7 linked regions of the Homo sapiens genome follow. The protein of the gene in region 6 purifies or fractionates together with the protein of the main gene of each other region. This does not show direct contact. Each region holds a gene or a part of one and is shown on either strand. Other genes may lie near its edges. The genes, in order: WDR89, C1orf174, PXK, SNX3, RRP36, DDX55 and DHX36.

Region 1 (3,500 bases), on a different chromosome or scaffold from region 6:
GATTTTCTATTTACTCTGAAACTTCACAGTGCTATGCCTTGATGTGGATCTTTTTCATTCATTACACTTGACACTCTGCTGTGCCTTTCAATCTAAAGATTGAAGTTCTGGAATAGCCACTATATTAGTCCATTTTCACACTCTATAAATAACTGCCCAAGACTGGGTAATTTATAAAGGAAAGTGTTTAATTGACTGAAGAGTTCAGCATGGCCAGGGAGGCCTCAAGAAACTTACAATCATGGGGGAACGCAAAGGGGAAGCAAAGCACCTTCTTCACAAGGCTTCAGGAGAAAGAGTGAGGAGTTAAAGGGGCAGAGCCCTTTATAAAACCATCAGATCTTGTGAGAACTCACCCACTATCAGGAGAACATCGTAGGGGAAACCACCCCCATGATCCAATCACCTCCCACCAGGTCTCTCCCTAGACACATGGGGATTATGGGGATTACAATTCGAGATGAAATTTGGGTGAGGACACAGACAAACCATACCAGCCATTTATGTTATTTCTAATAACCCACTGCCCCCATTTCTTTTTTAACTTTTTTCACTTTCTAAAACTGTTAGTCTGGTTTTGACCCCTGTATTTATCTTCTGTGGCTTTCATCTTTTCTCTTTGTCTCTTTCAGTTCTACTTTCAGGAATATTTTCTCACCTACATCTTCCAACACTATTAATTACTTTTGAATTTTAAATATTTTTAATTTTAAAAAGCCCTATTGTTTTAATAGTTTCACTTCCAATTGTTTTATGAATGCGATTTCTCCAGATATCTTTCAAACTAATTTTTTTATTCACTAGATAGCACTGTCTTATATTTTAAAGATTCTGAAAAACACAATTTTTAACGCTTATGTAGTCCGCCATCAAAACATCAATGTACTGAAGATTTTAAGCAGCATGAGGCACCATCACGTTTTTGTTTCTTCCCCCTCATTTCCCCGCCCCTACCAGATCTGTTTTTGATGTTTAGCCTAGAAGTAGCAAGAAGGATGAACTGAAGCAGATTAGAGATCGAGCTGGTAATCCAGATGAGAAATAATGAAAGTCTTCTCTAGGGTAATAGTGGTGAGGTAAAGGCAAAAGGATAGCTGACAGACGTTAGGAGGTGAAATGGCACAGGACTTGGTGAAAAACTGGTTAGGAGAAGAGGAAAGAGAAAAGCCCAGGTTATCCTCAGATTTATGGTTTGGACAACAGGAAGAATAGCAATTTCTCCAAGTCGAGTCCTATTATAAATATTTTCATTTTTGTATTTCACTTTGAGTCTCAATTTACCAAGATAACTTCCTTTCAATCAGCAAAACACCTGTTTACTACTTACTAACAATATTAAAGATGCAAATATTTACGAAACATATTTTTCTCACTTTACATAGATGCCTATCATTTCATTTGTAAAAAAGGTTAATTCTATTTACTCATTAAAATACTTACATTTAAATACTCCAGCATAATACATTAGGTGTATTAAACATATAGATGCTCCTCAGATGAAGAATATAGTCTAATCTGGTTTTATACACAATAAAGACAATTTAAAATGTAAAAAACTGGGCTTAAAAAATGCAGCCAACCACCTGTTTTATTAAGTTTTACCAAGTATTTCCTTCTAAAAAGTCCTTATCGGAGCTATTTCTTTAAAGCCAACATTTACTACATTAACAGATGGGTTCTTTAAATAAGAAATTTTACTTTCAACTCACTGATTTTATACTTAGAGGCTTTAAAATTTTTTAGAATATGTGAAGACCGGAATTAAACCATTCTCACCATATTTTTCCAGGACTGTTTGCTAACTGGCTTGTTTTTACATAAAGCTTTAAACATGTCTACCATGGGTAGTAAACAAGAAGGACTATTTGAAACTATAAAACCTACCAAACAAAGTGCCAAATGCATTATCACTGCTTTTTCCTTCTTTTATAAGAATCATTACTATGAACTCGTACTCGTTGGTGCACAGAGGATGCTATTTTCATACTCTCTTTCTTTGTAAAGGTCTTCTCTATAGCTCCAGGTTTCCAAAGTAACAACTGTGCATCTTCTCCTCCAGTCAACAAAGAATCATCTTGCACATTCCAACAGAAAGAACGGACTGTAGCAGCATGCCCTCCCTGAAGGCTAGTCACATGGGTCAGTCCTGACATGCTGCAGTTCATCAAATGAATCCTTCCTTTGTTTGTTCCTCCAATAACATGCAATGTGTCTGTCTTTTCATGATATAGGCCACCAATCAAATAGTCCAAAGCATCTTCTTTCATGTTAACTACTTCTCTGACATCCTGGATGTTCAAACGTGTAACTGGTTCATCAGTGTCCAGATGATTAAGATCCCACCAATAAAATCCTTCATCATGTGTCATGCAGTAAATCTGTTTATAACCTTTCCCAGACCAACCAATACAGCTTACTGATGAAATTGAGTTACAGGTTGTAACCAGTGCATCCTCCTCATTATCAATATTAATATCAAATACATTTACCAGGCCATCAGATGAACCTGAGACTACCATGTTGGGATTGCTGGGATGGAAACGTACTTGAGTGACATCATCACTATGTGTCTCTGAATATGCACCAAGTGAGTCTTTAGTTGTAGATAAATTCTGAGAATTCATCCTTGCATCCCAAAACACCAACAATGCATCATCATCAACTTTTTCTGTACCAGCACAAATAATATGATCATTACAATTAATATCAAAACTGATAAAAATATTGGAAGGGTAACCCTTGAAGAGCTGAACAGGTTTTTCTCTGGCTACTCGAGCATCCCAGCATTTCACAGTGCCATCAGTACATGCTGAATATACACTGTCACAGGAATTTGCAAATCTGACTCCATTAAGAAGTCCAGGATATCCACTAAATTCTCGTAGTACATTTAACCTTTCTTTATCATATATTCTGATTGATCCATTAGAACATAAAACAGCAACCAAGTTTTCCTTTCCTGCTTGGACAGTCTTTGATGTGTCTATACCAAGAAGGTAAGTGGGCTCTTTGGTTCCTAAGGAACATTTAACAATGTGCAGATTAGCAAATTGTTCCTCAATCTTTTCCATGTCAACAGCAGCATCCAAGGGTAGTAAAACTCTGTAAAAAATAATAATAATAAAAATAAAAATTAATGCTTAACAAGGGAGACACATAAAAAAATTTAACTTGAAGTTTCTCTAAAATTGCAATTAAATCAAGAACATTTTCCTCTGAGGGCTGGCATGAATCAATCAATCAACAGAAATGTATTCTAATACTATAATCATTTCCTTCCTATGATGTAACTAAAACTCAGTTGCCTTCTAATTCAATCACTCTTTAATACTGAATTCACTACCAGGAGTGGTGGCTCACACCTGTAATCTCAGCACTTTGGGAGGCTGAGGTAGGAGGACTGCTTGAGGCCAGGCATTAGAGACCAGCCTGAGCAACATGGGGAGACCCCCCCGCCGTCTCTTCAAAAAATAAATTAGCAGGGCATGGTGGCCTATGCC
Region 2 (3,500 bases), on a different chromosome or scaffold from region 6:
TGTAGTCCCAGCTATGTGGGAGGCTGAGGTGAGAGGATCACTTGATCCCAGGAGTCTGAGGCTGTAGTGAGCTATGACTGCACCACTGCACTCCACCTGGGTGACAGAGTGAGACAGTGTCTCTGAAAAAATAATAATAATAAAATAGTACAGGGAGTTGCCATGTAGCCTTCACTCAGCTTCCACTAATGTTAAACAACTACAGGACATTGTCAACATTAAGAAATTAGTGACATTACGGTACTCTTCACTAAACTATAGATTTTATTTGTATTTTATCGGTTTCTCCATGAACCGTTTTTCTGTTCCAGAATCCAGTCCACAATACCACACTGCACTTAGAAAACTCGAAAGGAATGAGTGTGAGTAGTAGAAGCAACAAACAGGAGCAATGCAGGTTGACATGGCCGGGAAAGGCCCAAGAGCTGCTGCCAACAGGCCCTAGAACTGGAACCCAGAAGGGGACGGATGAAGAGTGCCCTGCCCAACAGCAGATAAGAGAAATAAAAAAAGGAAAAAAACAAAAAAATAAAACACAGAAATAATCTGTCTCGGCTGGGCGCGGTGGCTCACGGCTGTAATCCCAGCACTTTGGGAGGCTGAGGCAGGTGGATCACAAGGTCAGGAGATCGAGACCATCCCGGCTAACACAGTGAAACCCCGTCTCTACTAAAAATACAAAAAATTAGCCGGGCGTGGTGGTGGGCGCCTGTAGTCCCAGCTACTTGGGAGGCTGAGGCAGGAGAATGGCGTGAACCCAGGAGGCGGAGCTTGCAGTGAGCCGAGATTGCGCCACCGCACTCCAGCCTGGGTGACAGAGCAAGACTCCGTCTCAAAAAAAAAAAAAAAAAGAAATAATCTGTCTCAGCCATGCACCCCGTAGCCCAAGACAGCTCCAGAAACCCTGTGGGGTGGCAGCTCCAAGGTCCTGTGATACTGTGGCAGTCAGAGTGTGTGTCTGAAACAGGAGGGAGAAGAGCAGGCAGCAGCCCACCGGAGGCCAGGACGCCCGCCTGCTGTACACAGGACACGCCAGTTGCCCACAGGCTGGGTGAAGTGCCTGCTACCACAGCACACCGGGGGCTGCGCCTCCGTCCTCTCACAAGGGCAGGGCTTTGCTGAGAGCCCCGGCAGACGTCATGGTCACAGTTACACCAAGGGGACTGAGGCAACAGAGGTTACAGAACTTGCTAAGAGTTGCCATAAACATCTCTCATCAAAATCCTCCCACTGGGTCTTAAACAAGCCCATCTCCCTAAAACGCCATCACGTGCCTCGTAGGGAAAAGACATCTCTGACCTAGAAAGCCACTGCCCCACCTCTCCTCCCTGCTGTGAGCCCTCCTCCGGGCGCTTTGCTGCTCTGTGCTGGAGTATGCTGTGTGGGGAGCCCAGCTCGGTGCCTGAACAGCTTTAAAGGAGTGGCACACCCATTTCAGATGAGGACAACTTGGGTAAGGAGCTTATGAGGTTATACGAGTGATGCCTGGCTTCCAAATCTCTATTCCATCACCACAGCTCACCCTAGATATGACCCCCAACAACTGCCTGAGGTGGGGATTGAACTGAAGAAGCTGCCACCCGCTCTGTGTTCTACGCCTGCACGTCTTTTCCCGCAGCAGGTGCTTCTCAAGGCTTCTGTCAGCATCTTGGCAGCAGTGGTTCTGAACTTTTCGCGTGCAACAGGTTCATCAGGTGGACCTTTTGGCCCCTTCTGCAGAGAAAAGCCAGATGATCTGCTGGGCTGGAAGCGCTGGCTGTTAACAGACACCTGAGGATCTGGTGGGCCTGGAAGCGCTGGCTGTTAACAGACACCTGAGCAGGCCATTTGCTGTCCTCTCCGGATTGACAGGAGTCAAAACATGAGATCGGCTTAGCTTCAGTTTCGTCATGGATTAACCACCTCCAAGGTGTCAACTCCAAAATGTCAAGAATTGGTCACAGTCTCACTTGCAGATTCCTGCTCTGCAGCTGGGCAGCTTGGACTGCTCCCACAGTCCAAAAAAGGAAAGACTTTCTCATCATTGAGATTCTCCTCATTCCAGTAGATTGTTTAATAACTGGTATGTCAGAAGCACAAACATGGTTTCTCCAAAAGGGCTGGCCGAGACTGACTTCAACATGATGGCTCGAGGAGCTTCACTGACCTTCTCAGAGAGTAATGAGCAGTCCCAAAACAGCCATTTAGAGAGCCTTTGGAAATGGTCCTATGGGCACCCAGCAAATGAAGAAACACTTGCTCCAGAACACCTACATACATTTGGTAAGGACACGGAGAGTCTGTGGCACTTGAGCTCCATCCTGCTGCAGCCAAGAACACAGGGCCACCTCCCCAGCTCCCAGGCAGCGGGGTGTCTTCCCAGGAGAGGCAGGATAGCAGTGCTTCCCTTTCTGCTCTCATCCCACCTGTGACTGAGACCAGGTCCTGAGTGAGTAGGATTGAGAAGAGGGGCCCTCCTTTCTGCTCAGACCCTATTTGTAGAATGAAGGCTTCACCTTGGCTCCATTCTACCAGTACGGTTTAAGCCTCTGCAAGAGGCTCCGCCCAGTGAACGGAGAAGACTGGGGCCCCATCAACCCCGTCCTAGATATGAGGTGGTTCCAGGCTGGGGAAGACACATTTGGAGGATCTCAGGCTGCTGCTAGCTCCCCCAGCCCCTATTCAGAGAGGAGCCCATTACTGTCCTCAGCTGCAGGCCCTGGCTCAGAGGCTCTGCCTGGGATGAGAGGCAGGCAACTAAACAGACAGCTCTTACACCTGCCCAAAGGCACCAAATTCCCTGCCATGGAATGTGGAGAAGTTCCGGCCTAAGGGAGCTGTTCAAGTACCGTGGATGCTGTGACGAAGGGGGTGGAGGCAGTGGAGAATCAAGCAATAGGCCAAATTGTAGGCCAACCAGTTCGCAGAAGAGAACCAGAGACTAACACGGCTGGGAGGAGGCCTCTTGGACACAGAACAAACTAACCAAACACTGACCTTAGAAAGTATCCCTTCGAAGAAGCCACAATTTGATTGGATTAGTTTGTAGAGCAACTTATGCCCAGGCTGTTGCTGAGAACAGCACAATAACCTGGCATTAGCGAAGTTCAACAGCTGGATGTGGTCAGGGAAAGAGGAAAAGGACCTCACTAAAACCACTGTCATCCAGAGTGGCTGGGTGCCACCCCCCACCAGCAACATCACAGGCTGAACACTGTGGCAGGGGAAATATACTTTATCAAAACAATCTACCCAGTTGCTAAACAAATAAGCATATTAACAATGACAAGCCCCAGGGTTGGGGACAGTACCCAGAATTGCTAAAATGTATTATCTAAAATGTCAAAAAAATTATGAAGGCATAATTCCAACAAAAAATTATGAAGCACTCAAAGAAAAAGAAAAGTAGGCTCATACACTGGAATAAAAGCAGGCCACAGAAGCTGTCTGTGAGAGTGACCAGATGTTGGATTTATACATATATAAAGGACCAAGGTAGCCATGATAAACAATATCAAGAT
Region 3 (3,500 bases), on a different chromosome or scaffold from region 6:
CACAAAGAAGATATCTCTGAAGTTATAATAACTGGTTGAATTTATGTATGTTCCAATAAGCTTTATATAATTTTTTAAATATTTTTTTTTCTTTTGAGACGGAGTCTCGCTCTTGTCACCCAGGCTGGAGTACAATGGCATGATCTCGGCTCACTGCAACCTCCGCCTCCTGGGTTCAAGCAATTCTGCTTCAGCCTCCTGAGCAGCTGGGATTACAAGCATGCGCCACCACGCCTGGCTAATTTTTGTATTTTTAGTAGAGATGGGGTTTCATTATGTTGGTCAGGCTGGTCTCGACCTCAGGTGAACCACTCACCTCGGCCTCCCAAAGTGCTGGGATTACAGGTGTGAGCCACTGCACCCGGCCAATTTTTTTAATTTTTAATTTTAATTTTTTTTTTTTTGAAGTAGGCGATTTTTTGTTGCCAGGCTGGAGTGCAGTGGTGCAATGACGGGGCTCAGTGCAGCCTCAAACTCCTGAGCTCAGGTAATCCTCCTGCCTCAGCCTGTTGAGTAGCTGGGACAACAGGCGCGTACCACCACACCCTGCTAATTTTTTAATTTTTTTGTAGAGACAGAGTCTTACTGTTGCCCAGGCTAGTCTTGAACTCTTGGCCCCAAGTGGCCTCCCAAAGTGCTGGGATTACAGGTGTGAGCCACTGTGCCTGACCTAATTTTTAAATTTTTAATTGTGATAAAAAATACAATATAAAATTTACTCTCTGAACCATTTTTAAGTGTACAGTTCAGTGGTGTTAACTATCTTCACATTATTGTATAACAGGTCTCTAGAGCTTACAACCTGAAACTCTATACCCATAGAATAATGACTCCCCATTTCTCCCTCCCCACAGCTCCGGGCAATCACTATTCTACTTTGTTTCTGTGATCTTGACTACTCTAGAAACCTTATATAAGTATTTGTCCTTTTGTGGATCATTTATTTCACTTAGCATAATGTCCTCAAGGTTCATCTATATTGTAACATGTAACAAGATTTCCTTCTATTTTTAAGGTTGAGTAATATTCCATTGTATGTATATGCCACACTTTTTTTATCCATTCATCTGTTGATGAACATTTAGGCTGCTTTTACCTCTTGTCTGTCATGAATAATGCTGCAGTGAACATGGGTGTGCAAATATCTTTTTGAGATCCTGCTTTTGATTCTTTTGGATGTATACCCAGAAGTGGAATTCCTCATATGGTAGTTCCATTTTGTAGTTTTTTGAGTCACCTCCATACTGTTTTCCATAGCAGCTGTACTACTCTACATTTCCACCAGCAGTGTACAAGGGCTTCAGTTTCTCCACATTCTCACCAACATTTATTTTATTATTTTAATAGTGGCTATCCTAATGGCTGTGAGGTGATGTCTCATTGTGGTTTTGATTTACATTTCTCTAATGACTAAAGACATTGAGTGTCTTTTCATATGTTTTTTGGCCATTTGTATATTTTCTTTAGAGAAATGTCTATGTCTTTTGCCTCTTTTTAATTGGGTTACTTATATTTTGTTGTTGAGTTGTTGGAGTTCCTTTATATATTCTGGATATTAACCCCTTATCAGACCTATGATTTGCAAATATTGTGTCCCATTTCTTGAGTTGTCTTTTACTCCGTTTTTCTTTGTTGCACCAATGTTTTATTTATTTATTTATTTATTTATTTTTCTTTTTTTCTTTTGGAGACAGGGGCTCGTTCTGTTGCTTAGGCTGGAGTGCAGCAGCACAATCTCAGCTCACTGCAACCTCCGCCCTCCCAGGTTCAAGTGATCTTCCTGCCTCAGCCTCCCAAGTAGATTACAGGCGTGCACCACCACACCTGGCTAATTTTTGTATCTTTAGTAGAGACGGGGTTTTGCCATGTTGGCCAGGCTGGTCTTGAACTTCTGACCTCAAGTGATCCACCCACCTCAGCCTCCCAAAGTATTGGGATTACAGGCGTGAGCCACCTTGCCCGGCTGCACCAAAGTTTTAAATTTTGATGAAGTTTAATTTTTTTTCTTTTATTGCCTGTGCTTTTGGTGTCATATCCAAGAAATCACTGCCAAATCCAGTGTCAAGAAGCTTTTCCCCTGTGTCTTTTCTTTTAGGAGTTTTATAGTTTTAGGTCTTATGTTTAGGTTTTGAATCCATTTTGAGTTAATTTTTGTTTATGGTGTAAGGTAAGGGTCCAACTTCACTCTTTTGTATGTGGATATCCAATTTTCCCAGCACTGTTATTGAATACACTGTCCTTTCCCCCATTGTATGTTCTTGGAACCCTTGTCAAAGATTATTTGACCATATCCACAAGCATTTATTTCTGGGCTCTCTCTTCTTCTTTTCCATTGGTCTGTGTATCTGCCTGCATGTCAGTACCACACTGTTTTAATTACTGTAGCTATGTAATAGGTTTCAAAATCAGGAAATGTGAGGCCTTCAACTTTATTTTTCTTTTTCAGATTGTTTTGGCAATTTACAGCCCTTGAGGATTACTTGCATTACTTGAAACATATCATGTTTATTTATGTTTTAGTTTTATGTGTTCATTGCTAAAAAATGCTAGAGAAGTGAGTGTGTTAGGGATACCAAAAGTGGCTGGGGTAGGATTTGAATGGACAGCTTTAACTGATTTTATTCCAAATGACTCTTTTTTTTTTTTTTTGAGATGGAGTCTCGCTCTGTCACCCAGGCTGGAGTGCAGTGGCGTGATCTCGGCTCTCTGCAAGCTCCGCCTCCCGGGTTCACGCCATTCTCCTGCCTCAGCCTCCTGAGTAGCTGGGACTACAGGCGCCCACCACCACGCCCGGCTAATTTTTTGTATTTTTAGTAGAGATGGGATTTCACCGTGTTAGCCAGGATGGTCTCCATCTCCTGACCGCGTGATCCGCCCGCCTTGGCCTCTCAAAGTCCTGGGATTACAGGCATGAGCCACCGCGCCCGGCCGAAATGACTCTTGATAACCACCTGCTCCTTCATTTACTCCAGGACTTGGAAGTATCTCCAGCCACCTTTTTCAATAGATGATGTACTTTTCTCTCCTTTCAGATCCCTACAAAGTTAAAAGAGGCATTGAGAATTGCCAAAGAATGTATAGAGAAGAGACTAATTGAGGAACAGAAACAGGTAAATTGATAACGGTTCCTCTTTGCCTTTTAGTGTCCCCATCCTCTGCCGTGGTTTTTATAGTGATTGACCTTTGACTGTTCCCTCTGCAAATATTTTAAGCATACTTACTCTCAGCCAGCCTTTAGGCTAAATGCTTCCCTGCAGAGCTGAATACTTGACAGTCCTGCCCTCAGTCCTGCCTAGTCTATGTGGGAAACAAACATGTCCAGGAAGGGCAGTCTGGGTTTCTGATCAGAGCATGCCGGCCGGTGATAGTTGCGGGCATGCATGGTCCATGCTGTCTCACCACATTCTTCTTCTGTAAAAGAGGGAAAGGCAGGAAGGCATTAGGGGCATGAGAAAGGACCTCTTCCTTTGGCATACTCCTCTACCTGGCATCCAGACCCG
Region 4 (2,660 bases), on a different chromosome or scaffold from region 6:
TACTGTTTGAGCAACAAAAGGCCTTATGGGGCAACTCTGACTTCTTCCTATGACTTCTATGTGCTTGGTGGACATCCTAGTTTGGCCAAGACCCAAGCTTGTTTCCTTTTAAATGGACTGATCCATCTTCAGAGGAGACGCATCTGCTGTAGGAGGACAAAATTTCTTTACTTTGGGATTTAACTCCAAGTCACAATGGGTCCCCAAACCACCGCAAGTTGTACAAACTAGAGACCACATTCTGGCTGAAAGGTCTGAACACAACACAAGTTAGGCAGCAAGAAGTCATGTGTTTTCTGGTATCTTATCATTTTTGCAGGTCAGGCTAGAAGACTGTGCCCTTCTCTTAAAGAGGATAAAGTGTGCTACTATCCCAAACCAAATTAAAGAGAAAGCACAAACCTGCTGACTAAGAAGAGTTATTACACCCTTGCTAAGTTTGTTTAAACAAGTCACTCAGTTGACTAGGAAAAAACTTCTGAAAAATAGGAGAAATGGTATTTTATCTTTGAAAGTCCTTTTAATAAATGAGATTATAAAGCAGTTTTCAAATACACAAAGTGCTTCAAAATGATTCAATAAGCCTTAAGCAATACATTTTTTAGTATATCACTTTTGTTGTTGTTAAAAATACCCCATTCAATGGATGGAAGTATATTTGATATCACCACTGTTTAAAGGGAATGGAGTTACAGGAATGAGAAGTATATAATTAGTAAATAATCCCTCTCAACAAGTGACTTAAGTAGTCACTCATAGAGAGCAAAAAAAGCTGGAGGCAACACAATCAGTGCATATCAGAAATGCATTTTAATTTTTATTTGAAAACAACTTAAATTTTTAGACAAATGATTTTAGTATATAAATTTGCTTTTGTTTTTATACAGAATATAAAGATTTCCCTCATTAATCTTCCATGTGAAGGGTATTACAAGCCTGGAGGAAGATACTTTCTGCACACAAGTATGTATCTTATGTGTGCAGTATTGGAAACCAATGGTGTAGTGCTCCTACACATAAATGGGGTCAAGTGACATCACAAATTAAAAGGGGGAAAGAGAAATATTCTAGTTAATCAGATGCAAGAAGCAAACAAGACGCAAAAACTGTGCAAATAAGACCAAGCCAGTAACTTTAGTTACGACACTGCAGATTACACTGGAATAACAGGTTTGTGAGGCTATAGTGTGCACCACATTAAAACAGCAAGAAAGAGCTATTTATATAGAAAGGCTGGAATGAGGGATTTTTACTAAAGCAAATTAACTTCTTGTCAACTGCCAAAACAAAACAAAACTGAGCATATGAGTGTTAGTATACTGAAGGCATGTTATACCAGTTTCTGTGCAGCATGCTAAAAGTTAGAACTTCTTCACTGGTGCTTATCAATCATTAATAGTCACGTTTTTGCCCCTTCTTGCCAAATTTCAGGCATGTCTTATTTTAGATGGAGTATAGCTTTTATCTATTATTTCATCTTGTAAAAACATGTGAAGACAACGTTCGTTCTGTGCCAGAGGATGACCAGCGACCCTGAGAATAAAAAATATAAATTTAGTCCAATATTTTATACAAGGTGGGGGAGTTCAAAACACATATTTTAAAGTTGAGAAGCATGTATAATTTTTTTTTTTTTGAGATGGAGTCTTGCTCTGTTGCACAGGCTGGAGTGCAGTGGCTGATCTTGGCTCATGGCAACCTCCGTCTCCTGGGTTCAAGTGATTTCGTGCCTCAGCCCCCTGAGTAGCTGGGACTACAGGCGTGTGCCATCATGCCCAGCTAATTTTTATATTTTTACTAGAGACGGGGTTTCACCATGTTGGCCAGGCTAGTCTCAAATCCCTGACCTCAAGTGATCTGCTCACCTCAGCCTCCCAAAGTGCTGGGATTACAGGCGTGAGCCACTGCGCCCGGCTCAGAATCATGTACAGTTTACCAATAAGTATTATTCTGGACTGTCCATAAAGCTATGCACTATCAACTAATGGTATATGTTCTTTTGTTTGGTTCACAACTCTAATTAAGAAAACATTAATCACAAATTTTTCACTGCTTGTGGCACATGTACCCAATTAGCTTTACATCATAGCTGGTGTATTCATAAGAAACTTAAATTAATTTTAATGTTAAAAGTGAAGCATGTCAATTGATCCTAAGAATCTTTTTTTTTTTTTTTTTTTTTTGAGACAAAAGTGTTGCTCTATCACCCAGGCTAGAGTGCAGTGGTGTGATCTTGGCTCACTGCAACCTCTGTCTCCCAGGTTCAAGCGATTCTCCTGCCACAGCCTCCTGAGTAGCTGGGACTACAGGTAAACACCACCACGCCCCACTAATTTTTGTATTTTTAGTAGAGACAGGGTTTCGCCATGTTGGCCAGGCTGGCCTTGGAACTCCTGACCTCAAGTGATCTGCCCACCTCGGCCTCCCAAAATATTGGGATTACAGACATGATCCACTGTACCAGGCCAGAGTCTATTTTAAAGAGGAGAAGATACAGGATTGAAGTTAGAAATACAATGAAGTTCAATAAAAGCCCAAAATACTAAAAAAACAGGCACAAATATCCAGGTATTTTGTTTGTTTTTGCCTGCTTAAAACCACACTGGGCAACCGGACTATTATTTCAGAATTTAAAAATATCTAATATAGGCCAGGCGTGG
Region 5 (2,738 bases), on a different chromosome or scaffold from region 6:
CCTGAGGAGCAAAGATGAGATGGGTGAACGGGAGGGATCTGTTCAGATCTGTGAATATCTCCCACCTTTAATTGCTTTCATTACCCACCACAATTATTACCCACTCACCATTCGCTGAAGCAGTTGCTGCAGTTTCTCATGCTCCTCTCCTGAAAGGTGCTTCTTCAACTGTTTTTTCACAAGCTCCACATTGGAAAATGAGTATCATGGTTAGCATTCTGCAAATGTTAGCTGAAATTTTATGTAAAGCATTATCCTAAGAAGTTCACACACATACACACACACACATTTTTTTTTGAGATGCAGTCTTGCTCTGTCACAGGCTTGAGTGCAGTGGTGTGATCTTGGCTCACTGCAACCTCCGCCTCCTGGGTTCAAGCAATTCCCCTGCCTCAGCCTCCCAAGTAGCTGGGACTACAGGCACGTGCCACCACGCCCGGCTAATTTTTTTTTTTATTTTAGTAGAGACTAAATTTCACCATGTTGGCCAGGATGATCTTGATCTCCTCCTTTTGTATTTTAGTAGAGACTAATTTCACCATGTTGGCCAGGATGGTCCCAATCTCCTGACCTCGTGATCCACCTGCCTCGGCCTCCCAAAGTGGTGGGATAACAGGCATGAGCCACCGCACCCGGCCAGAAGTTCACATATATTAACTTGATAACACCAAGACAGTAACTGTTTGTTTGGAGACAGTCTTGCCCTGCTGCCCAGGTTGGAGTGCAGTGACACGATCTTGTCTCACTGCAACCTTTGTCTCCAGGGCACCAGCAATTCCCATGCCTCAGCCTCTTGAGTAGCTGGGACTATAGGCATGCAACACCACACTTGGCTAATTTTTCTATTTTTAGTAGAGATGGGGTTTCACCATGTTGGCCAGGCTGGTCTTGGAACTGCTGGCCTCAAATGATGTGCTCACCTCAGTCTCCCCAAGTGCTGGGATTACTTACAGGCGTGAGCCACCACACCCGGCCTCCAAGACAGTAATTATTATTTTATTTTTTTATGATTAGAAAACTAAAGCATAGAGAGATTAAGTAACATGCCAATAATCACACAGCTAGTAAACTGATGAGCCAGGATTTGAATATGAACTGAATTGGAGAGAGTTAAATCTGCCCACCACTATACTTCCCACTCCCCCTGCCCAACTCTCTAACCTGTGCCCTCATTTTCCACCCCACAAAATTCCCCATAAACCAGTCTCAAGCTGTATACCTCTTTCTCTTTCGCTCGGATGTCATTCAAGAATTGGTATGTTTTGTCAAACACCTCAGGATTATATTCCCCTGACAGATCATCAAAGCGAGGGTCCCGGGCTACCTTTGGAGAGAAGAGAGAGAATATAAAACACAACTGTTCAATCTCCTTTCACTGAGAAAAAGTGCTTCCTGTCTCTTCCTCATCTTTCTTTTTTTTTGCTTTTTGAGACACAGTCTCGCTCTGTCGCCCAGGCTGGAGTGCAGTGGTGCAATCTCGGCTCACTGCAAGCTGTGCCTCCCAAGTTCACACCATTCTCCTGCCTCAGCCTCCTGAGTAGCTAGGACTACAGGCACCCGCCACCACGCCCGGCTATTTTTTTTTGTATTTTTAGTAGAGACGGGGTTTCACTGTGTTAGCTAGGATGGTCTCAATCTCCTGACCTCGTGATTCGCCCACCTTGGCCTTCCAAAGTGCTGGGATTACAGACATGAGCCACTGCGCCCGGCCTCTATTTTTTTTTTTTTTTTTTTTTTTGAGACAGAGTCTTACTCTGTCCCACAGGCTGTAGGGCAGTGGCATGATCCTGGCTCACTGCAACCTTCACCTCCCAGGTTCAAGCGATTCTTGTGCCTCAGTTTTCCAAGCAGCTGGGACTACAGGCACACACCACCATGCCCAGCTAATTTTTGTATTTTTAGTAGAGACAGGGTTTCACCATGTTGGCCATGCTGGTCTTGGAACTCCTGATCTCAGGTGATCGCCCACCTCGGGCTCCCAAAGTGCTGGGATTACAGGCGTGAGCCACAGTGCCTGGCCTTCTTCCTTACCTTTTTACTAATGGGAACAACCTGACGTAAAAATGGTACTCGGATCTTGGCTGACATTTCCAGAGGCCTATGGAGAAATTAAAAGCCAAGTCAAGAGGACTCCAGTGTTGGTCAAAGGCTTCCCACCTGTCACCCAAGACAACATACCTATTCAAGGTCCCAGTTATCTTCCAACTTCTAGGGCAAGCCTTGCTTACCTGTGCTTATCTGCAACACATGCATTTTGGATAGGTGGTCTAGAAGCTTGTTTCTTAGGACTATTTCCAGCTACCAATTGTTTGTACGTCTTAGTCCCCACTTGGCTCTGCAATTCCAACAGCTCCTCAAATGACATGTTAGATGTGCCTGTGGAAGTGGGGAGGGACATACAACTCAGCTCAGCATGTCCCACTGCAGAAAAGACATCTTCCCATCCCCATTCCTTAGCTAGCTAATCCTAATACCCCATCAGACCAATCATTATTAGAAGTCCTAGGCAGCAGAGGCTGTGATAGTGTTAAACTCTCCAACTATTTCAGCAACCTGGGGCCTCATCTTGCTAAGGAAGGTGTATATGTAAGGTCAAAGGTGCACCAAACCATAGTCCCTTCTTTTTCTCTTTTACTCATTCTTTTACTCTCTCTTTTACTCATTCACAGGTTTCCCCAGAAGGGCATCTGCCTCCCTTGCTCAGTTACCATTGCCAGTGTCCTGGTCCACATGCTCAG
Region 6 (3,500 bases):
CCTGGGAGGCAGAGCTTACAGTGAGCCGAGATCGCGCCACTGCGCTCCAGGCTGGGTGACAAAGCGCGACTCTGTCTCAAAAATTAAAAAAATTACATTTTTACAAAGTTAAAAGGAATACTCAGCAGCCAGTGGCCAGTTTATTCTGTGTCTACTCAAAACCTGGGAACACTTCCTTTTATGAGACAAAGCAATCTCATACTTGTAAGACCACCACATAGTTAAGATGGAGACATTATCACATGAAGAAGTCCAACTTACCCTTTAATCTGAAAATCAGGTTGCATTCATGCTTTGCATAAGCTTGGACATATGACACAAAAGCTTTCATGCCCTTTTCAAACACAGCTCTGTCAGCCAGGGCCATGGACTTGAGTTTTGGCAGAAGGTCCGCTGTGTTTCTCTGGGGCTTCATCTCCTGCAGGGGGCACTACACACACACACATACCACATTCTCACCTTCCCTGGCTGGCATCATATCCCCAGGGCTCCCCATCACAACCAAGAAAAACAAAAGCGAAACAATTCCTTTTCAACTGTTGAGGTCTGAAGCCCAACTCCAACCCAAATATTTCACATGCTCTGTAAAGTATGTTAAATTTTTAAAAGAAAATTTAAAAATCAGATTTCACATGACAATCCTAATCTGGTAGCAAAGTATGGCAACACTGGGTCTCTATTCACAAGAAGTAACCCTTGCCTGGGTCCCAGCAGGGCATGCTACCACACAGGAGACTTGGTCACTCCATGACCGAGGTGCCTCCACAGCCTTAAAGCCCACCAGGGTGGCCGGGCACGGTGGCTCACGCCTGTCATCCCAGCACTTTGGGAGGCCGAGGTGGGCGGATCACCTGAGGTCGGGAGTTCAAGACCAGCCTGACCAACATGGAGAAACCCCATCTCTACTAAAAATACAAAATTAGCTGGGGTGGCGCATGCCTGTAATCCCAGCTACTTGGGAGGCTGAGGCAGGAGAATCCATTGAACCCGGGAGGTGGAGGTTGCGGTGAACCGAGATAGTGCCATTGCACTCCAGCCTGGGCAACAAGAGTGAAACTCCGTCTCAAAAAAAAAAAAAAAAAACCCCACCAGGGCCCCCCACTGCCACCACCAGCCCAGCCCCAGTGAGTTTGCAATTCGTAATTTCAATTGCTGACCACATGCTGGAGAACTTTTCCAGCTACCCCGTCACTAGGCATTCTATCTGAAAACGGACGGCAGCTTACTTTTTGGTTAATTGCAAGGAAATTGATGTATGACTCTTCCATGGGCAGGAGGAACACCAGAGCGCTGCCCCCGTGGCCAATGCGAGCTGTGCGACCGCAGCGATGCACGAAGGCACTGTGAGAACACAGGGTGGAAATGGGTACCCAGGTGATGACAGCTGAACAGAGCTCAGGCTCCAGCCACATGGCTGCTGCAGCTAAAACGCTCTGGGGAGCCTCTAGCCTCCACAGCTCAGTGTGGACTCGGCCACTTACTAGTGTGAGAAATAGAACTGGCAATTAAACCAACACTGCAAACAGATACGATTCTGTAAGAAACATTTAATGTGAACTCTTAAGTAAAACTTGTATCTTTCTCTCTGATCATACAGGTGGGACATAGTCCCCAGTGGAAAATCTGGGAAACAATGAAAAATACAAAGAATAAAATGAAAATGACCAATAACCTCAGGAGTAATCATCAACACTTGGGGGTTTATAGGCATTTTCCTATGCGTGGAAGCATGTATTAGGAATATATGCTGACTTTGAAGAAAGTAATTGTAATTTTCACATGTGGTGGTATGTATTGCTTTTTTCATTTAGACATTCTATTGTGTGTTTCTGCAAGAACTGATAATATTTGAAAGTACTTTTAATTGCTACCAATACAGTATCACGATTTCACCATGAATGGGTTATTCATCCATTTGCCTATTTTTGCTACTTAAAACAACGGGTTTTTGTTTTGAGACAGAGTCTCACACTGTTGCCCAGGCTGGAGTGAAGTGGCACAATCCATTGCCACCTCTGCCTCCTGCGCTCAAGCGATTCTCCTGCCTCAGCCTCTCAAGTAGCTGGGACTACAGGAACACACGCCTGGCTAATCTGTATATATATTTTTTGTAGAGACAGGGTTTTGTCCTGTTGCCCAAGCTGGTGAATTCCTGGGCTCAAACGATTCACCTGCCTCGGCCTCCCCAAAGTGCTGGAATTACAGGCGTGAGCCACCGCGCCCAGCCTCAAATAATGTTGTTGTTTTTTGTTTTCTCTCATTGTCTGAAATTTCTATAACCTTGCTCTACATGGAGCACGGCAAGGCCTCAAACCATTTCAAAACTGTTCTGGCAAGCCCTGTAGGAATCCACGGGGTCACTGCAGACCCAAGCACGCTGGAGGCTTGCTATAAAATGTTTCAGTGAACATCATTATCTGTTTATCTTCTTCGGGATTCCTCCTTTATTAGGCTAAATTCCTCAACAGAGAGTGGGTGGCAGCCTCGTACCATACCTTGCATTGCTGGGAGGGTCATACTGCAAAACCCAGTTGACTTCAGGAATATCAATTCCCCGGGCCATCACATCAGTGCACACTAAAATCCCACTAGGAAATGAGAAAAAAGCATTCTGAGTAAGGAGGCCACCATCTTCATCACCATCAAACAGCCTACTGATCTCGATGACAGTGACACACAGGTGCTGGAGCTTCTCACAGAAGCAAATGTTTAAGGTAATATTTTGATTTTTTCTTCTTTCTACAAATCTCTGGGACTTCATAAATTCCAATAAAAATTGGAGGGAGGTGAGAGACAGCAAAGGGATTTTAAAAATTACAGCACTGCCATTTGAAAACCAAAACTGTATGGGTCTAATCCTTTGTAGCCATCTGAAAAACAACGGACAATTCACTCCATAACTGAGGCCTAGCAGTCAGGTATATCACTTTGTCCAAAAGAAGACTTTTAATATAGTCAGATGTTCAATGATTAAGAAAAACAGAAAACTATTATTTGTCAGCACAAGCAGATACAAGTTATGGTCATTGGTAGACACAAGTTGCCTGCTGTATAGTCACAAGCCTAATAAGCCACAGACAGTTTTTTGTTTTTTTGTTTCTTTGTTTGTTTGTTTTTGAGATGGAGTCTCACTCTGTCACCCAGGCTGGAGTGCACTGGCGCAGTCTCGGCTCACTGCAAGCTCCGCCTCCTGGGTTCACACCATTCTCCTGCCTCAGCCTCTGGAGTAGCTGGGACTACAGGCGCCAGCCACCATGCCCGACTAATTTTTTGTTTTTAGTAGAGACAGGGTTTCACCACGTTAGCCAGGATGGTCTTGATCTCCTGACCTCGTGATCCACCCGCCTCGGCCTCCCAAAGTGCTGGGATTACAGGCGTGAGCCACCGTGTCCGGCCTTAAGCCACAGACAGTTTCTACCCAGACAGGACAAATGGATTTGCTCCTTGCTGCTTGACAGTCATCACAACCTTTCCCTGGACCGGGCACAGGGCAATCTGGG
Region 7 (3,500 bases), on a different chromosome or scaffold from region 6:
ATATCTTCTTTTGAAAAATGTCTGTTCTTGTCTTTTGCCCTCCTTTTAAGGGGATGATTTGTCTTTTATTGTTGTTGTTTGAGTTTCTTGTATATACTGGGTATTTGTCCACTGCTGGATGAATAGTTTGCACATATTTTCTTCCGTTCTGGAAATTATCTGTTTACTCTGTTGATTATTTCTTTTGTTGTGTAGAAACTTCTTAGTTAATTCCCATTTGTCTATTTTTATTTTTGTCGCCTGTGCTTTTGAGGTCTTAGTCATAAATTCTTTGCCTAGACCAATGTCCAAAGGAGTTTTTCCCTAGGTTTTCTTCTAGTAGTTTCAGTTTCAGGTAGTCTTCACCCTTTTATGGGGACTATATTCCAGGAAATTGCATAAAATTACAGAATGGTGAAAAATAAACCACTTTTGTCATAACACACTTTTGTAGCTAGACTTAAATATTTTCACTAATATATAGCAGTTACTGTATATGCTGATAGTAGGAAGAAATGCTAAGTAGGTAATTTTTCTCTTCTTTTTTCCACCATCTGTTGGAATTTGAGTAGACAGGTTAATGTGGTCTGTCAGTGTATACTAGATATACTTATTGGAAAGTTTTACTTGTAAAGTATTATTTCTTACAAATTATGCCATTTTCTATTTCTAATACCTTATTATCACTGTTCTGTCACAGAATAACTGTTGGTTACTTTTAGTTGTACAAATCAGTATTAGATTATAACATTTCATCTTTCCAAATCTTATTTTTGGCAGTCATAACTTTCAAAACATGACCAAGAACTAGAAATTCAACACCAGTCCCTACCACAAACAAAAACACAAGGGAAGAGTATCAATATGTAATTACTTTCAAATTACACATAACTTCTACAAGTTTAGATCTTGATTTACAACTCTTAGAAAAGACCAGAAAAGTATAAATTAATGAGAGGATGCTATAGAAAGGCACTTTGAAACTAGTGATGAGAGAACTTGGCCTTAAAAGACTTTATAAGAGGAAATGAAAAATAAACAGCTCTTAAGAGAGGCACACACTGTTTTAGATACCTCAGATTTTAATATCTATTTTTTTAACTCATTTAGAAATCTGAAGAACAATTTTTCAACAGTCCTAGATTTTCATGGACATTCAGGATATTTGTTCTAAAGGAAATTATATTCTCTTTATGTTTTATTTGAATTAAAGGTTGCGGAAAGAGTAGCTGCAGAAAGGGCAGAATCTTGTGGCAGTGGTAATAGTACTGGATATCAAATTCGTCTCCAGAGGTAAGAAATGTTCACTTCTTATATACAGGCAGATTTTAGTGAAACTTTGAAGCTGGAGATTCAAAAGAAAGGATATTTTCCCCATTTTTATGATGGTTATTACTATTACAATTACCATTTAAAGTAACTGCAGCGTAGATGACTTGCTGCCACAAATTTATCTTTTAACCCCACATCAGACTTGTATTGCCTTTTTTAAATGATGCTTTTATATTTGGAATGATTAGAAAAATAAACATTTTTCCTGGACATAGATTAGTAGACCATTACTCTCTCTGAAAAGATTGTGTAGACCTTTCAGTACCACCTCCATATACTTCCGACTGACTTTTTATTGATTTTGATATCTTAACCCCCTATCCAACTCCACTGTGCAGTACATAGTTGGTCCTTTTCTGGAGCTTAGGACTCCATTTGCCTTTTTATGTTTTAATTTACTTAATGTTTTTTAGAGATAGGTTCTCACTCTGTTGCTCTGGCTGAAGTGCAGTGGTGCAGTCAACTCACTGCAGCCGAAGACTCCTGTGCTCAAGCAGTCCTCCCACCTCAGCCTCTCAAGTAGCTGGGCCTACCGGCGGACACCACCACAACTGGCTAATTTTTTTACTTTTCGAGCCTGGATCTCGCTGTGTTGCCCAGGCTGGTCTTGAGCTCCTGGGCTCAAGCAACCCTCCCATCTTGGCCTCAAAGTGTTGGGATTACAAGCCTGAGCCACCATGCCTGACACATTTGCCTTTTCAAATGAGCTTTCCAATTACGAACCAAATATTTAGGCCCCATAAGTAATTCAGTTGTTGTCTGAATGTGAATGGTCGTATCTTTTAAAAGAAATTAACATTATATCAATGACAACAAAGATAATGTATAATGAACTTGAAGTATTTCCCATTACCCCATTGTGGTAGGTGTTCTTATAAGTAAAAAATTAAGTGTGAAGATTTTCATTAAAACTGAAAGCATTTCTAAAATTGAAGATATAAACCTTTGTGGTAGTTAATTATTAGAAGAGAAAACCAAGGCTTATTAATTCATGTCTTTCATTCACAGTCGGTTGCCAAGGAAACAGGGTTCTATCTTATACTGTACAACAGGAATCATCCTTCAGTGGCTCCAGTCAGACCCGTGAGTATGTTTCAATTAAGGAAATATAAGTGTTATCAAAAGATGTAATTATTAAATTGGATTTTACTAGTTGTTAAAGAAAAATGGTTTTAAAATTTTGTACTTCACACTTCTGCCTTAGGTATTTGTCCAGTGTTAGTCATATCGTACTTGATGAAATCCATGAAAGAAATCTGCAGTCAGATGTTTTAATGACTGTTGTTAAAGACCTTCTCAATTTTCGATCTGACTTGAAAGTAATATTGATGAGTGCAACATTGAATGCAGAAAAGTTTTCAGAATATTTTGGTGAGTAAAATGTATAGTTATTACATTAGAAAAGGTACTAGAAAAACAATTAAAAAAATTAATATGGTACTAGGTAAAGAGTAGTCAAAATGAATGTTTAGCTGTTAATTTTATTTTAATATTATTCTACCCTCCAGTTTCATGGATTAGACAATTGGGTCTATTTTTAAATGGTGGCATCATCTCTCATAGTGAGGACAGGTAGCTTCTTGTTGCTACCACCACACAATTAAGATGGCATCATTGAAGTCAAACCACAGATTTGCATAATTTTATAAACTTCTTTCTGTTGTTTTTCTGTGGCTTTTATCACAGGTTAGGGTGGCAGTTTGCTGCTAATACTGCTAGTGACCACTTATGGAACACCTTCAATGTTCCAGGTAGTATATTTGCCACTTTGTCTTCCTTAGTCTTTATAACACTTTATGAGGTAGTTGCTATTATCATTCACATTTTTACAGATGAGAAAGCAGCCTCAGAGCAGTTAAGTAGGTTTCCCAAGCTGAAGCTAGATTGGACCAGCTGCAAAAGCACATTCTTTTAAAATTAATCCTCACTGTCTTTCCTGCTTATACTTGTGAAGGAAGGAGGGGGAAAGGGAGGGAATTACAATGTAATATATTTATGTTTAATAAATGTTCTTGTCATCAGCTTTTTAAAAGTCCTTTAAAATACATCCCAGTTAATACTGAAAACCATGTAAGATTAGTTGGGGTAGGTGTTATTATTGTTATTTTTAAATGAGACTTCTAGAACTAACATTGAGTACTTTGCTCAAATGTGTGCACATCATGGGTAGAGCAGTGATACCTACTTAG

The links.
Region 1: the proteins of DDX55 (region 6) and WDR89 purify together in Homo sapiens (affinity purification with mass spectrometry; one large-scale study listed by BioGRID and IntAct). This does not show direct contact.
Region 2: the proteins of DDX55 (region 6) and C1orf174 purify together in Homo sapiens (co-immunoprecipitation; one large-scale study listed by IntAct). This does not show direct contact.
Region 3: the proteins of DDX55 (region 6) and PXK purify together in Homo sapiens (affinity purification with mass spectrometry; one large-scale study listed by BioGRID and IntAct). This does not show direct contact.
Region 4: the proteins of DDX55 (region 6) and SNX3 purify together in Homo sapiens (affinity purification with mass spectrometry; one large-scale study listed by BioGRID and IntAct). This does not show direct contact.
Region 5: the proteins of DDX55 (region 6) and RRP36 purify together in Homo sapiens (affinity purification with mass spectrometry; one large-scale study listed by BioGRID and IntAct). This does not show direct contact.
Region 7: the proteins of DDX55 (region 6) and DHX36 purify together in Homo sapiens (affinity purification with mass spectrometry; one large-scale study listed by BioGRID and IntAct). This does not show direct contact.

What each region holds. Positions count from the first base shown.
Region 1 is NC_000014.9:63,596,872-63,600,371, forward strand, and holds the end of WDR89 (WD repeat-containing protein 89), read right to left. Parts: intron 3,103-3,500; coding exon of another isoform or gene 3,072-3,102; coding exon 1,908-3,071; 3' UTR 168-1,907; downstream 1-167.
Region 2 is NC_000001.11:3,893,773-3,897,272, forward strand, and holds part of C1orf174 (UPF0688 protein C1orf174), read right to left. Parts: exon of another isoform or gene 1,523-3,500; intron 1-1,522.
Region 3 is NC_000003.12:58,405,892-58,409,391, forward strand, and holds part of PXK (PX domain-containing protein kinase-like protein), read left to right. Parts: intron 1-3,032; coding exon 3,033-3,110; intron 3,111-3,500. UniProt on the Homo sapiens protein: Binds to and modulates brain Na,K-ATPase subunits ATP1B1 and ATP1B3 and may thereby participate in the regulation of electrical excitability and synaptic transmission. May not display kinase activity.
Region 4 is NC_000006.12:108,210,722-108,213,381, forward strand, and holds the end of SNX3 (sorting nexin-3), read right to left. Parts: intron 1,534-2,660; coding exon 1,428-1,533; 3' UTR 501-1,427; downstream 1-500. UniProt on the Homo sapiens protein: Phosphoinositide-binding protein required for multivesicular body formation. Specifically binds phosphatidylinositol 3-phosphate (PtdIns(P3)).
Region 5 is NC_000006.12:43,024,623-43,027,360, reverse strand, and holds part of RRP36 (ribosomal RNA processing protein 36 homolog), read right to left. Parts: intron 2,377-2,738; coding exon 2,229-2,376; intron 2,099-2,228; coding exon 2,032-2,098; intron 1,325-2,031; coding exon 1,220-1,324; intron 232-1,219; exon of another isoform or gene 184-231; coding exon 109-183; intron 2-108; coding exon 1-1. UniProt on the Homo sapiens protein: Involved in the early processing steps of the pre-rRNA in the maturation pathway leading to the 18S rRNA.
Region 6 is NC_000012.12:123,615,599-123,619,098, reverse strand, and holds part of DDX55 (ATP-dependent RNA helicase DDX55), read right to left. Parts: intron 2,715-3,500; exon of another isoform or gene 2,589-2,714; coding exon 2,496-2,588; exon of another isoform or gene 2,452-2,495; intron 2,390-2,451; exon of another isoform or gene 2,259-2,389; intron 1,788-2,258; exon of another isoform or gene 1,342-1,787; coding exon 1,227-1,341; intron 503-1,226; coding exon of another isoform or gene 431-502; coding exon 262-430; intron 1-261. UniProt on the Homo sapiens protein: Probable ATP-binding RNA helicase. Has ATPase activity and is involved in the maturation of precursor large subunit rRNAs.
Region 7 is NC_000003.12:154,303,988-154,307,487, reverse strand, and holds part of DHX36 (ATP-dependent DNA/RNA helicase DHX36), read left to right. Parts: intron 1-1,192; coding exon 1,193-1,272; intron 1,273-2,319; coding exon 2,320-2,394; intron 2,395-2,515; coding exon 2,516-2,682; intron 2,683-3,500.